Linked DNA regions of Homo sapiens. The protein of the gene in region 1 interacts with the protein of each later gene in a pairwise test. Each region holds a gene or a part of one and is shown in the gene's direction. Other genes may lie near its edges.

What was found.
Region 2: the proteins of PLEKHH2 (region 1) and PXN interact in binary tests that used the Homo sapiens proteins (3 or more experiments, as listed by UniProt).

What each region holds. Positions count from the first base shown.
Region 1 is NC_000002.12:43,695,762-43,703,766, forward strand, and holds part of PLEKHH2 (pleckstrin homology domain-containing family H member 2), read left to right. Parts: intron 1-1,409; coding exon 1,410-1,595; intron 1,596-3,885; coding exon 3,886-4,847; intron 4,848-5,248; exon of another isoform or gene 5,249-5,320; intron 5,321-8,005. UniProt on the Homo sapiens protein: In the kidney glomerulus may play a role in linking podocyte foot processes to the glomerular basement membrane. May be involved in stabilization of F-actin by attenuating its depolymerization. Can recruit TGFB1I1 from focal adhesions to podocyte lamellipodia.
Region 2 is NC_000012.12:120,255,154-120,263,158, reverse strand, and holds part of PXN (paxillin), read left to right. Parts: intron 1-8,005. UniProt on the Homo sapiens protein: Cytoskeletal protein involved in actin-membrane attachment at sites of cell adhesion to the extracellular matrix (focal adhesion). Recruits other proteins such as TRIM15 to focal adhesion.

The sequences.
Region 1 (8,005 bases):
AGAAGTCCAAGAAGACTTGAATTTTGGCCTTAGAGAATAGACCTTTTAATGGAGATTAGGGGAGTCACAGATACCATACATTTGTAGCTGCATTGAACACTTTGGAGGAGGTTTCTTGGCATCACACATGCTGAACACATTATTGAACTTGGCATTAATTGAGGGTAGCTCTGAGGCACTTCCATGTGTTCTTAGATGCCTGAGCTGGTGGTTACTTGCATGCAAATGTCATAACTCAGTTCGTTCATGGATCACCAGTGTTCTAATCCTTTCCCCATATGGATCTTCTAGATGAGGGTTTGAATCCAGTCAGTTAGGAGAATCAATTGATAATCCGCTGATAAACTCAAGAATATCAGTGGTGAGATTGGTCTATTTAAAAAAAACATATATCTCCAAAATTATTTATAACTTTTGGCTGGGCCACTGGGCCAGGCGCAGTGGCTCACTCCTGTAATCCCAGCATTTTGGGAGGCCAAGGTGAGAGGACTGCTTGAGGCCAGGAGTTTGAGACCAGCCTTGGCAATATAGTGAGACCCCATCGCTACAAAAAAAGTTTTTTTTAATTAGCTGGCCATGGTGGCACACACCTATACTCTCAGCTACTTGGGGGCTGGTTAGGGAGGTGAGGTGGGAGGATCACTTGAGCCCGGGAGTTTGGGGCTGCAGTGAGCCATGATCATGCCACTGTACTCCAGCCTGGGCAACAAAGAGACACCCTGTCTCAAAAAAAAAAAAAAAAGTCCAAGAGATGAATTAAATTCATGATTAGATGCTGACCTAATCACTTCACTACCTGTATAAATTCTTTACTCACCTCCTCTTTTTTTTTCTCTTTAAAGAAGTGATTAAAGCTCTTTATATTGTGGTTACCATAGACCCAACCTCCCCATCTACTTTTTTCTCATGGCTGAAAACTAAGATAAGCAAAAGTCATTACAGTTATCATGGGATGGTTGCCCCAAGGATGATCCAAGTTTCTTTGGTTATTTCGGCAACCAGGACCTCAGTTTCTTTTTCTTCACAGTGGCATACTGTGCAAATTTTACCAACGCTGAACTGGTATTTGTCAATACTTGACTTTGCAGGAAGCTAGAGCTCTCTAGTTATTTATAATCTGTTTGTGTTTTGTCGTTGCTTAGAACTAACTACTCTTAAAGGGATTAGATATTTTTCTTTCTCCAGTTAAAAATATTTTGAACATTCAAAATATGTAAAACAGAATTTAAACATTGGGATGTGATGCTTGTCATTGAAGGTTCTATGTTATTGTACATCAATAAAGATGAACTTTAGGCTTTTTTTCTGGCATAAAGAGTGATTTGTTCAAGTTTTTATATGCCTTGGTTCTATGTTTAACAAACTTCTATAAAAAATTCAAATCTTAATTTTGATTAACGATGTTGTAGAAGTTCAAGGAAAGAAGTCATCCACTGTCTCTACACTAAAGCTTTCGGAAGGCCAGCGCCTGAGCAGTTTGACCTTTGGGTGCTTTTTATCTCGAGCAAGGAGTCCTCCTCAAGTAGTAAAATCTGAGGAAATGAGCAAGATATCATCGAAAGAACCTGAGTTCACTGAAGGAAAAGACATGGAAGGTATTTATGAACTACAGGAATTGACTTTGGCATTTTTTAAAAAGGAAGACTCATTTGCTAAGATTAATCCAAATATAGCTTAATTTTCCTTATTTTTTTCTGACAATTTGATGTTTTATGAGAATGTTTCTAAAGAGCAATACAACATTTAACTTTGTGTGTCTAATTATTTTGTGTTTTCTGAGAGCCTTTGCATAGGAGAAACTGATTTTTCCTTCGTAATATATTTTTCCTGCTGTAGGTGGAAGGTGGGTATTTAAAATTAAAAAGTTTACTGTCCCATCTGCAAGATGCTGTACTTGTTTTAGCTGAGTTTCAGATTAGAACTGTGAATTTCCTATTCATTATTTATTTAAAATATAAAACATTACTTAATATTACACATAAAACATTATTTAAAATATAAAACATTACTTAATATTACACATGAAATTAAACATTGGCATAGCAAACTTCTAAAGAAAAAAACCCTAGGGGATAAATTGATAACTCTTTGATTTTCCTTTAATCCTTCCAAGAGGAAAATGTTTTCCTAGATATTTAAACCCTGGTCCTGTATACAGATTTCTACTCTTCTTCTTTTAGTCTTGAAGTGCTTCTATCAAAAAAAAAGAAAAAATCCATCTAAATTTTGCTTTGTTGTAGCTGTTGGCTTTGCCACCTCTAGCACAATCACTTTTGTTGACTTTCCCCAAATATTTTAGAGAGGCCTGAGTTTTCATCCTCTCTACTTTCAGCTCCAACTTCCTTCCCCCAGAAGAGAAAAAGTATAACAGTAAAAGTTGTCTCTATGCTTGGTTATGAAATTCTGAAAATGATACATTTTCCAATCCGAAGGCTCCTTTGCTCCTTGCTTTCATGCCATTACTCGCTTTGCTCTTCTCTTCTCTCTCTCTTTTTTTTTTTTTTGAGACAGGATCTCACTCTGTCTCCCAGGCCGGAGTGCAGTGGCACGATCACAGCTCACTGCGGCCTTGACCTCCCAGACTCAAGTGATCCTCCCACCTCAGCATCCCTAGTAGCCAGGACTATAGACACATGCCACCATGCCTAGTTAATTTTTGTATTTTTTGTAGAGATGGGGTTTCACCATGTTGCTCAGGCTGGCCTTGAGCTCCTGGGCTCAAGCAATCTGCCAGCCTTGGCCTCCCAAAAGTGCTGGATTTACCGGTGTGAGCCACTGCACCCGGCCTACTTGCATCTTTTTTTTGCCTTTTGAGAAGCCATTTTCATTTCCTTCCCTTTTTCTAATAGTGGAGTACAGCTGAGATTGCTTGTACTGATGCTCTTGCTCATTTGCAAATTTAACAAACTTCCTAATACCGAATTTTAGAGTTTATTTGTTCAGCCTCTAGTTCCTTAATTATGAAGGTCCTGTCTATGTTTTCATGTTTTCAAAGTTTCTTTTCTACACTTCAGTCTAAAAGTTTAATTCCTTGTTTATGAAGCCAATGGTTCATTCTGTTAATTATGTTATACATAAAAATAAACCATATCTAAAGATATTTTTAAAGAGTGTTATTCTTATTATAAAAACACATTTTGTAGTTATGATTAAACCAAAAGTAGAGCAAGGAAAGCTTTTCTGTGTTTATATTTTCTTCATGATTTTGCATATCTCAATGTATCGAAGTTTGGTGCAAGGTCTGTTTATTAAACTATAGCTTTGTATTTATTATGCTTAAATTTACTTCATTATAATCTAAATATTTAGTTGAAAGGAGGTGTCATTTTCTTTCCTTCTAAAATAGAATTCATGCTGTTCATTTTTTTGGTGACTGCTTTCTTTGATAGTGAAAGTTGCCCTGTTTCACATTTTGCTTCTTTTATTATCTCTCTTTAGACTCTCAGTTTTTTTTTTCCCAACATGTTTTTTTGTAAAAACCAATTTGGAAACTATTATATTGACATGTTAGGGCTCTGAGTTTTATATAAAGCTTATAGTTTTCAAAAACTTGTGTTTAAAAAAGACATAAGACTAACACAGGATAATGTAAATTATTTGTATGAAATTTTTGGTTTATTCCTTTAAAAAAAATAGAGGCAGGGTCTTGCTCTGTCACCCAGGCTGGAGTGCAGTGGCTGATCATAGCTCACTGCAGACTTCAGCTCCTGGGCTCAAGCAATCATCCTGCCTCAGCCTCCCAAGTAGCTGGGACTACAGGTACACACCACTGCACCCAGCAAATTTCTACAGTGTCAATTTCTACAGTGTAGCTACATAAAGCTAAATGTACAGAAAGATTATATTCTTAAAGGCAGCATGCTGATATGATGTATCCTTTTCTAGAAATGGAAATTCCAGAAAAGTCTGTTGATAACCAAGTTCTAGAAAACAACAGAGGCCAGAGAACATTGCATCAAACCCCTTGTGGCTCAGAACAGAATCGGAAAACAAGAACAAGCTTTGCCACAGATGGTGGCATCTCCCAGAATTCTGGGGCTCCTGTGAGTGACTGGAGCTCTGATGAGGAAGACGGGAGCAAAGGAAGATCCAAGTCCAGATGCACATCCACCCTCTCCAGTCACACATCTGAGGAAGGGGTCCAGTGTAGCAGGATGGGAAGTGAAATGTATCTGACAGCATCTGATGACAGCAGCTCTATATTTGAGGAAGAGACTTTTGGCATAAAGAGACCAGAACACAAGAAGCTATATTCTTGGCAGCAGGAGGCACAGTGGAAAGCTCTAAATAGTCCTCTTGGAAAGGGAAATTCTGAATTAAGTAAAAAGGAACAAGATAGTTCCTCGGATGAACTGAATAAAAAATTTCAATCCCAGAGACTCGATTATTCATCTTCATCGAGTGAAGCCAACACCCCAAGCCCTATTTTGACCCCAGCTTTAATGCCAAAGCATCCTAACTCACTCTCTGGAAAAGGAACACAATTAGTGCCTTCATCACACCTGCCACCCCCAAAGTTAAGGATTCCTAATGTTTTCAGTATAAGTGTAGCACTAGCCAAAAGGCACTTAAGCCAGCCACAGTTAAGCTCTGACAGGATGTTTGGTACAAATAGAAACGCTATAAGCATGATACGACCACTGAGACCTCAGGAAACTGATCTTGATCTAGTTGATGGAGACAGTACAGAAGTTTTAGAGAATATGGACACGAGTTGTGATGATGGATTATTTTCCTATGACTCCTTGGACTCTCCAAATTCAGATGACCAGGAACACTGTGACTCAGCAAAGAAGGTGGCATACAGCAAACCTCCAACTCCTCCCCTGCACCGTTTTCCTTCTTGGGTAATTATATCACCGCATGTAACACATACGCAGTAGTTTTTTTCTCAACACTTTTTTTTTCTGGGAGGGAGTCTCGCTCTGTCGCCCAAGCTGGAGTGCAGTGGCGCGATCTTGGCTCACTGCAACCTCCATCTCCCGGGTTCAAGTGATTCTCCTGCCTCAGCCTCCTGAGTAGCTGATACAGGCATGCACTACCATGCCTGGCTAATTTTTGTATTTTTGGTAGAGACGGGGTTTCGCCATGTTGGCCAGGCTGGTCTTGAACTCCTGACCTCAAGTGATCCACCTGCCTTTGCCTCCCAAAGTGTCCACACTCATTTTCAAGTTTTACTTTTTCTTTTCTTCTTTCCTTTCAAATCCAGCTTTGTTCTGACGTTTTCCAGTTTTTAGGATAAAATTTCTTCTTCTCTTCCCTCACTGAGTTCTGAATCAATTGAGAAATAAGATAATGACAAGACAGATGGGAGATCAAGGTATTACCTTATTTACTGATAAAACTAATTTTAGAGAATTAGTGGGCAAATGAGCTTTCTAATACTGAACTTTGAGATTAGCTGGATTGAGTCACCTGTTCCCAGGAAGCCCTGGACCACCACAGGATTCTGCTACTGAAGCCATGCCCCTCTAAAACTTACTACCTCAAAAAACAGAACAGATGGTTGTTTCCTGCAGGCAGCTACTTCTCAAGAGAAAGGGGAGAGGAAGTTGCCAGGCTCTGCATGCCCAGTTTCTCCTTCTCAGCTTACCAATCACATTAAGCCACTCTTCCTCTTGGGGAGGGGAAAGTGAATAGGTGGAGAGGGATCAGCAGTGTTCAATTACTGGAGGTTCCTCCATGTGGAAGGAAACATTGGAGGTGGGAAAGAAGGGTTCCCCCTAACTGTGATATTTTGGGTGAATTCTGAACCGGGACACTTAACTCTTGTTAGTTATAAGTTTTTGAACTTAGTCGTTATTTGATTGGCTTTAAGATAAATTTAATTTTCTTTTTGAGCTTATATAGCCATTGGTTTCCAAAGTATCTTTCTACAGACCTAGAATAGATAAAATCTTCTTCCATTGAAACATTGACCATTAGTAGGATAACACTGCTAGACTAAAAAAAAAAAAAAATTCTTCCAATATTTGAAATAAAATGAAATGATCTGTTTAATTTTAATTTTTTTTTTTTTTTTTGAGATGAAGTTTCACTCTTGTCTCCCGGGCTAGAGTGCAATGGCGCCATCTCAGCTCACTGCAACCTCTGCCACCTGGGTTCAGGCAATTCTCCTGCCTTAGCCTCCCAAGTAGCTGGAACTACAGACGTTTACCACCACACCTGGCTAATTTTTTGTATTTTTAGTAGAGGTGGGGTTTCACCATGTTGGCCAGGCTGGTCTTGAATGCCTGACTTCAGGTGATCCACCCACCTCAGCCTCCCAAAGTGCTGGGATTACAGGCGTGTCACGCCACTGCACCTGGTCTGAAATGATCTGTTATAGATTTAAGTTTTTCTTCACATGCTGGCATAATTTAACCTTTGGCCTCCAGAGAAACATCTGGGTTGCAGGACTCTTTTGGTTTTTGGAGTCATGTTCTTTTATTACTATATTTTTTATTTTGTGACTGATGCAGTTTTAAGCAAATTAGGGTGGACATGTTTTTCTAATATAAATTCAGAACTTAAGATGTATGTGCTCTTATTTGCTTTCAAGAGGACATTTTATTTCAATATCCACATGAAACCTTCTGTAGTTTATTACTAAATTTTGGATAGCACAGGAAAGTGGAAGTTAATGGCATGTGAATCTCTGGAATTCTAATTATGTTATACTTTAGGCAGCAAGAAATTGAAATTTTGCCTATCTTATGATGTTGAGATTTTCAGAGATTTAGGTTAGGCTTTTAAGTTCGTTTTATTTGGCAACCCATTCTACTACTTTTTTTTTTTTTTTTTTTTTTCCATTCTGTCTTCTCTTACTCTTTTGAAGCTATTCGGTCCTGAAAAAGTAGTATTGCTTTTCAAAAGCCTTCCAGCAGACTGGCCAAGTCTGAGATTTTATTTCTGTGTTTATTAGGTATTTTCAGGTTTCAAGGAAAAGAGATGTATTCTAATTGCCTCAATAAATATGAGTTTATTTTAAAAATTTCTAAGAGCTTATTTTAAGGCATAGCCTATCCTTATTGAACTGGAATACCATGCAAATTACAATAGTCACTCTAGAGGGACAACATGTGATAGTCAGCAGTACCTCCGATAGAAACAAGTGACATCCATTGCCCCTGCTCCCAGTGGCTCAGCTTGTCCTCCCAGGCCTCCAGTCCCCTCTCTCTAATTCTACTACTAACCACTTTCCCCCAGTCTCCTAGGGCTTCAGACTGCCTCCCGTCTCCTGCTTACTGCCCTTATTGTTATATGTCTTTCTGTTGCTGTTTGTGTGTGGGTGTATCTCACACTCAAAGAAACTACATCTGATTCACTCAGCCAGGCACTATTCAATCGAAAATGTCCCTGATAGTCGGAGAACTCATGCCAGTTGCCTCTCAAGCCACTGGCTGTCTTGAAGAGGATGGCCTTAGTTGCCCACTGTGTCCTGGACAGTCAACTGTGTCCAAGTTAGACCCATTATTAAATTCAGGACATGTTGCTCTATGCATTAGGAACCACCTGTGGTCCCTTTTCTCAAGGGAGCAGGGCTAGTAACCTGTCCAGTACCTGTTTCAGAGATTTTTCAGAAGAGAAGAGAAAACAAAATAATCTACTTTTGGAACAAGATAATATAAATTCCATTGCAATTCTCATATTCATTTCTTGTTTGACTTTAGGTATCTCTTCTACTTGAGTGAAATGTACATTGACATAGGAAGGCGATAGCATTTAATGCTACTGTATCTATGACTTCTGACTTCAGGTTTTTCCATTCTTTGTTTAACCATGTTCCAGAATAGTAGAATATTAAAAGTGGTGTTTATGTGTAATCAATGATTGAGAATGGTTTCTAGCTTAATGTTATAGCCACTCATGGTTTTTCTCCCCACCGCCAACCATATTCTAGAATGGTAAGAATATTAAAGGTGGTGTTTATGTGTAGTCAGTGATTGTGAAAAAGCTTTCTCTTACTTTTTCTTCACGTCTTCAAAATAATTTATCAAACAAAAATGTGGGAAAAAGATAAATA
Region 2 (8,005 bases), on another chromosome or scaffold:
CCAGACCTCTTGTTTTTATTTTTCTCCTGAGCGTGCTCTCAGCCGTGTGCCTCCTGGTCCCTAACACAGGGGAGAGTTTATGGTGTGTCCGGTAGCAAGGCCAGAGGGTGCATCACCTCCTCTGTGACTTTGTTTTTTGGTCTAATAAAAAATGGGGAACTCTTCTCCTTCCCATAGTTGCCAATGACAGACTCACCATGTGCTGCTTAATAAGTTACAAATTTATAGCTCTCTGAGCAGAAAAATATCAACACAGCGTGTTCTGCCCTTCCCTGTGTGTTCTCTCCACTTTGTTCTTTGGGGTGGCTGCTTGGTGGCTTTTCTTATTACTGTTTAGATGCTGGTTTGGCCCAGAGTTCGCTCTGTTCAAGTTCTGGCCGGAGTTTCCTGGACAGAGTTCCCACAACACTGAGATGCACTCTGACTGTGTTTTCTAACCCGATTGCTTGCTCTTCCTCTGTTCATGTTCTCAGTGTACTTGGTGGGGGCTTTGACCACAACTGTGGTCTAATCATGATCATGTGCGCTTCATGGGAGACAGGCACTGTACTCAGCACTTTACGAGCTGTATCACAACCTTTCAGAAAGGGAGGTGTTTTCGCTCCACTTTATACATGTGGAAACCTGAGCTCAGGGAAGTTTAGTGGTAGTGCTGGGATTTGAACCCAGGCTCATCCAATTCCAGATCCGGTTATCTTAATCATCATAAGGTGGTAGGTGCTGGTGACTAACCAGGGGGATGAGCCTTGGGGCCTGCTGAGTAATTGATAGTTACCTTTAACAATCTCTGCCCTAGGGGCCCATCCCAGGAAATGGCAAAGGGTGTGTCCAGTGCAAGACTGGGTAGCTTTGCCTTCCCATCCTCTAGCAGGGGGAACAGCCAGCTGTTGGCAGTGCCCAGTTGCTGCTGGAATCTGGACATGTCTTCTTTCAGCTTCTCAGCAGTCTTGACCCTTTGGAAAACAGTGCCTCATTGTCCTTGGGGGTAGTGCTAGGGGGGCAGAGGAGTTGCCTGGGGCATTGGGAGCTATGGAGCCTCCCTGTTTCCATGGAAAGTCTGGACTTTGGGCTTTCCTGTCTGTGGTCCCTCTGTGTGTTAGGGCAGAGTCAGGGCACCCAGCTGCTGGGCGTGTGGCAGAGGCGGCATTTACCCATGCAGCGATAGTGCCCTCCTGGTGGGCTCTGCATCAGTGCCAGACCTTCTCCTGGGCTTGTGCTAGTAAGGGGCAGAGCTGGGATTCAAACCTTGGTGGGTTTGATTCTTCAGCGGGTACACTTTCTGATATGTGAAGCTGTCTGCTGCCTGGGCAGACATAGCTTGATGGAGAAATGCTCAGCCTACTGGAACCCAAAGCCCTGTCACTATAGGTTCAAGGTCTTTTGAGGGAATATCTCAGTATTCCTTTTTTCCAGCTTCCCTAGTGATGGTCATGCATTGAAGAGACTGGGTGTACCCTTGGCTGGAGAGGCTGATGGAAGGCCAGAGTTATTGGTGGGCCACTGAGCAGCCCTCCTCTCCTATTTAGTCATCCTGCTTGGAGTATCTGACTCTGAAGCTTCTCTTGCGTCTTTACCTCGCTCCAGAGATGTTGAATAAACTTCCAGCCTCATTGCAGCCTTTCCGGGGATCATCCTAGTCTCAGTGCCTTCATTAATAATAACAAAATCTGCCGGGCATGGTGGCTCACACCTGTAATCCCAGCACTTTGGGAGGCTGAAGTGGGTGCATCTTTTGAGGTCAGGAGTTCAAGACCAGCCTGGCCAATGTGGTGAAACCCAATCTCTACTAAAAATACAAAAATTAGCTGGGCGTGGTGGCGCGTGCCTGTAGTCTCAGCTACTCAGGAGGCTGAGGCAGGAGAATCGCTTGAACCCGGGAGGCAGAGATTGCAGTAAGCCGAGATCGCATCACTGCACTCTGGCCTAGGGGGTACTTTTCTTTTTTACAGTGTTTACAGAACTTTTTCTCATAATATTTATTGAGCTCTTATTATGTGCAGGCACTGTGCTGGGCACTTTACATGCATTGTTTGCTTGAATCAAGCTGGCCATATGAGGCAGGTTTTATTAGTAGTCGTATTACTACTACCTGTTTTATAAGTGAGGAAACTGAGACACAGAGAGGTGAGCCCACTTGCCCAAGTTCTACAACTAGTGAATGGCAGTGCTAGGATTTGAATCCAGGTGGTCTGGCTGCTGAGCGGGACTTGCAGCCAACTGTTTTGTACACTTTTTTTTGGAGACAGGGTCTGCAGCCTCTGCCTCCCAGGCCCAAGTGTTCCTCTTCCCTCAGCCTCCCGAGTAGCTAGGACTACAGGCATATGCCGTAACGCCCCGCTAATTTTTGAAATTTTTTGTGGAGACAGGGTTTCACCATGTTTCCCAGGCTGTTCTTGAACACCTGGCCTCAAGCAATGTGCCTGCATCAACCTCCCAAAATGCTGGGATTACAGGCATGAGCCATTGTGCCTGGTGCATTCTTTACACTTCTGTTCATAATACTGCATCTGATATGGGTTGCCCATTGGTTTGACTGTTTTCTGTTTCTAGGACACTAACATTTTTCTGCACCCACCCTATTCTCTGTTGTCTTCCACATCTGTCATTTCCCTGTTCTCTGCAGCTTCTTGTCTGTCTTTTGTTCTTTTTTTTTTTTTTCCTGAGTTTCACTCTTATTGCCCAGGCTGGAGGGCAATGGCATGATCTCGGCTCACCACAACCTCCACCTCCCAGGTTCAAGCGATTCTCCTGCCTCAGTCCCCCAAGTAGCTGGGGGCATGAGCCACCATGCCCAGCTAATTTTGTATTTTTAGTAGAGACGGAGTTTCTCCATGTTGGTCAGGCTGGTCTCGAACTCCCGACTTCAGGTGATCCACCCGCCTCGGCCTCCCAAAGTGTTGGCATTACAGGCGTGAGCCACTGCACCCGGCCTTTTTGTTCTTTCTTGGGGACACACACTCAGGATGGGATGCAGGGTCCTGGGGGGAGTGTCTCCTGTTCCAGGGGAGGCCCCAATCCTCCCTCCCTGGTCACCTCTCCAGTCACCTGTTACTCTTGAGACAGAGCAGTGAGCTTACAGCACCACTGCCAAGGAGAACCTGGGGCAGGTCCCCTGTGGTCCCTTGCCACCTCCTCTGCTCAGGAATCAGAAGCCTTCCTGTGCCCCCAGCCCCGCTGCACCCGAACATGCTCCTTGTCTTTCCCGTATCCAGAGGAGGGAGTTGTTGAAAACTTTATGGTGGAGAATGAAGGATGTCCTATGGGAGGGGGAGAGGAAGAGAGAATCAGGAAGCTGAGTTTTCTCAGAAATGTTCACAAAGCAAGTCATGGAAATGGCTTCAGGGTGCCCTCCTCACCTGGGATGGGCCCTGAGACTCCATCGACAGCCTCACGGGGTCCACTCTGCCTTTTGCAGTCTGGGTCTTGTTGGGAGTCTCATATCTGGCCTTGAGTGTACATTCATACCCTGATAAGTCTTCCAACTAACTAACCGATTGCCTAACCAGTGGTGCTCAGGGCTGGCCTCTCCAGGGAGGCCTTGGATGCTGGGCCAGTGGTAGACAGAACATGCGGTTGGCCAGGCCCAGTGGAACCCCAGTGGCCAAATCTTCCCTTAAAGACGGACTTTTAATGCTTATTTCTTGTGTGATTGTGGTATTGTGGTTTTATGGGAGAATATTGTTATTGTTAGGTGCATGCTAAAGTATTTAGGAGTGAAGTGTCATGATGTCTTGCAACTTATTTTTATTTTTTCATTTTTTATTTTTGAGGCAGAGTCTTGCCCTGTCACCCAGGCTGGAGTGCAGCAGCGCGATCTTGGCTCACTGCAACCTCCGCCTCCTGGGCTTAAGCAATTCTCCTGTCTCAGCCTCCTGAGTAGCTGGGACTATGGGTGCATGCCACCACACCCGGCTAATTTTTGTATTTTTAGTAGAGGTGGGGTTTCACCATATTGTTTAGGCTGGTCTTCAACTCCTGACCTCAGGTGATCCACCTGCCTCAGCCTCCCAAAGTGCTGGGATTACAGGTGTGAGCTACCCCACCTGGCCTCAACTTAGTTTTATTTGTTTTTTTTTGTTTGTTTGTTTTGAGGCAGAGTTTTGCTCTTGTTGCCCAGGCTGGAGTGCAGTGGCACCATCTCAGCTCACTACAACCTCTGCCTCCTGGGTTCAAGCGATTCTGCTGCCTCAGTCTCCCGAGTAGCTGGGATTACAGGCATGCACCACCACGCCTGGCTAATTTTTTTATTTTTAGTAGAAACCAGGTTTCTCCATGTTGGTCAGGCTGGTCAGGCTGGTCTCAAACTCCCGACCTCAGGTGATCCACCCACCTCGGCCTCCCAAAGTGCTGAGATTACAGGTGTGAGCCACTGCACCCAGCTCAACTTAGTTTTAAATGATATAATGAAAAAAAGGATATACACATAAAGGGCAGAGAGCACAAGGGCCATGCGTTTACACAAAGTGGTAAAACAATGACAGCCATTCAATCTAAGTGAGAGTACCCGGGCCTCTCAACTTCTCTGTGTGCTTAGACATTTTTATAATGAAAAGTTGGAGAAAAGTAAGGAAACCCTGCTTTTCCATGATGGGCTTGGAGTTGTTGGGCCTAGGTGCTGGCCTGCGCCTGCCTATGGTTGGCCTGAATGACTGCTGGTCTCCTGTGATTGAGCAGGTGGTGGGAAGACTGGGTGAGCAGAGACAGTAGCTGGGGGGGCCTCAGGTGACAGTGACTGCTGACTATCATCTGGGAAATGGGGAGCACAGTGCTGTGACCTGTGCAGAAAAAAGACAGGCCCAGAGACAGTGTGTGTCCATAGGTGTGGAGGCAGCCTCATGAGTTATTTGAGCATGATGACATTAATCAGACCAGGGTTGAAGCATGTGAGATGCCGAACTCTGGTTGGAGTTTGAGATGGGTTGTCTAGGCTGATGGGATGCAGAGCAAGACTTTTTTTTTTTTTTTTGAGACGGAGTCTTACTCTGTCACCCAGGCTGGAGTGCAATGGTGTGATCTTGGCTCACTGCAACCTCTGCCTCCCAGGTTCAAGTGATTCTTGTGCCTCAGCCTCCGCAGTAGCTAGGATTATGGGCGTGCGTCATCACGCCTGACTAATTTTTGTAATTTTAGTAGAGATGGGGTTTCACCATGTTGGCCAGCCTGGTCTCGAACTCCTGACCTCAGGTGATCCGCCCGCCTTGGCCTCCCAAAGTGCTGGGATTACAGGTGTGAGCCACGGTGCCCAGCCACAGCAAGGCTTTACATAATTCAGGGAACGGTCTCTGGGCAGCTTGAGGCCTGTGGGCGGGGAGGAGATGTCTTTTGCCTCACATCATGAACCCCTTATCTGTGGCCAGTGGAACACCATTAACCTGTGGGCAGTGATGGCTGAGTGTCCCCAGGCTTTTGCTTATAGCTCAAGTCTGACCATCCAGTTTTCCAGCCTTCAGGCTCCCCCTCCTGGAATCCCCACTCCCTTGGTCCCTCCTGTCTAGTTTGTGCTGACTCAAAGCTGGCCCTCTTGGACCTCCAGTCTGTTTTGGGGAAATAGCTGGATTCTGGCACCAGTGGCCCTCTTGGCTCTGAGGCAGAGGTGAGGGCCCTGGTGCCTACTAGAAACATTTCGGGCAGCCAGCAGGCTCTCATGAGGGGAGGGCTTCATGCCAAGGTCTTCTTTCAGCCTCATGTCATCTATGTCAGCGTGCAGAGATGCCGAGGCTGGCCACTTGGCGAGGACTATGAGGTCTTCTAGCGAGGGCTCAGAGCTTCACTCTGCCTATTTGAAAGCAGCATGATGTGTGTTTTATGGGGGAGGGGGTGATGCTGGGAGGAAGCTTTATGTAATTCTTGGCTGGAGCTCAGGTAATTGTTTTAATGAAATGGAATGCAGCTTATTCAGAATTCGCTTGGCAGAAACAGCCATGTTCTGTTCTGTTTTCTTGTTGGGGAGAGCAGGGCACACATTTCCAGCTGTTTTGAATCGTAGAACTCTGGGTGAGCTGGAGCAAGGGGGGTGGAACCCTCCAGGGAGCTCCAGGGAGCTTCAGGCCGATTCTCTTCTGGATCCCGGTCTGTGTGTATTGTTTTGAATGAGCCTTGGAGACTTTGGCCTCTTCTAAAACATAAAAACCCTACTGAGGCCAGGCGCGGTGGCTCATGCCTGTAATCCCAGCCTTGGGAGGCTGAGGCAGGTGGAACACCTGAGGCCTGAAGTTGGGAGTTCGAGACCAGCTTGACCAACATGGAGAAACCCCATCTCTACTAAAATACAAAATTAGCTGGGCGTGGTGGCGCATGCTTGTAATCCCAGCTACTCGGGAGGCTGAGGCAGGAGAATTCCTTGAACCTGGGAGGCGGAGGTTGCGGTGAGCCAAGATCAGGCCACTGCACTCCAGCCTGGGTGACAGAGCGAGATTCCGTCTCAAAAACAACAACAACAACAAAAAAAAACCCTATTGAAAGCAGGCTATGAAATGGGTGTAATGCCTGCCTTCCACATTGTTGGGAGACTGAGTGAGGTGCTTAGCACATAGTAGACAGATCCTCAAGGATGGCCTCTATTTGCTCACGCTTTACTCCACCCCCCACGTCCCCATCTTTCTACCCCCTTTTATACCTCATGGTCATCATCTTCTGTCAGTGTAGATGGCTGTGGCCCCATGTGGCCCCGATGTCCCCATCTGCAGGTCCACCTGGCTCTCCTTTTTCTTCTGGTTCCGTTTTTCTCCTCTCCTTCTCTTCTCTTCTTTCTCTTTTCTCACAGGGTCTTGTTCTCTTGCCCAGGATGAAGTACAGTGATCTGATCACAGCTCACTGTAACCTCCAACTCAAGCGATCCTCCTGCCCTCAGCCTCCTGAGCAGCTGGGACTACAGGCACGTGCCACCATGCCTGGCCAATTTTTTATTTTTTATACAGCCGGAGTCTCATTATGTTTCTCAGGCTGGTCTCGAACTCCTGGCCTCAAGCAATCCTTCTGCCTTGGCTTTCCAAAGTGCTGGTATTATAAGTGTGAGCCACCATGTGTCTTGCCTGTTTCCCTCTTTTTACTTTTCTGCTTTTACTAACTTCAGTTTTTTGTTTTGTTTTTTAGAGAGTCTTGCTCTGCCGCCCAGAATGGAGTACAGTGGCATGATCTTGGCTCACTGCAACCTCTGTCTCCCAGGGTCAAGCGATCCTCCTGCCTCCGCCCCACCCCCCCCAACCCCCCGCAGTCCGCAGTAGCTGAGATTACAGGCACACACCACCATACCTGGCTAATTTTGTATTTTTGGTAGAGATGGGGTTTCGTTTGCCATGTTGGCCAGGCTGGTCTCGAACTCCTGAGCTCAGGTAATCCGCCCACCTCGGCCTCCCAAAGTGTTGGAATTACAGATGTGAGCCATTGTGCCTGACCTGCACTTACTAACTTTTTTACTTTGCTCCTTTTTATTTTATTTATTTTTAAATTTATTATTATCTTTTTTGAGACAGAGTCTTTCTCTGTCACCCAGGCTGGAGTGCAGTGGCATGATCTTGGCTCACTGCAACCTCCGCCTCCCGGGTTCAAGTGATTCTTCTGCCTCAGCCTCCTGAGTAGCTGGGACTACAGGCGCCCGCCACCATGCCCAGCTAATTTTTGTGGTTTTAGTAGAGATGGGGTTTCACCATAGTGGCCAGGCTGGTCTTGAACTCTTGACCTTGTGATCTGCCTGCCTCGGTCTCCCAGTGCTGGGATTACAGGTGTGAGCCACCGCGCCCGGCCTGTTCCTTTTTAAATTTTAACACAGTCTGACCCATTCTTCCACGTTTGCTCTTTTGCTGAGACACCTGTCTCACCCTTTAGCTGCATATTTTTTTCTCCCTTCCTTAAGCTCCGCTTGCTTCTCCAGAGACCCTCCCACCTTCTTTTCCCAAGTCTCCTCTGATCCCTGAGTGGAGGTGCACCTGGGTGTTTTCCCAAAGGATTTCTCTGAACTCCTTGTTTTTCAACTATGCACCTCGGTCAGTTAATCAACTGCATGACC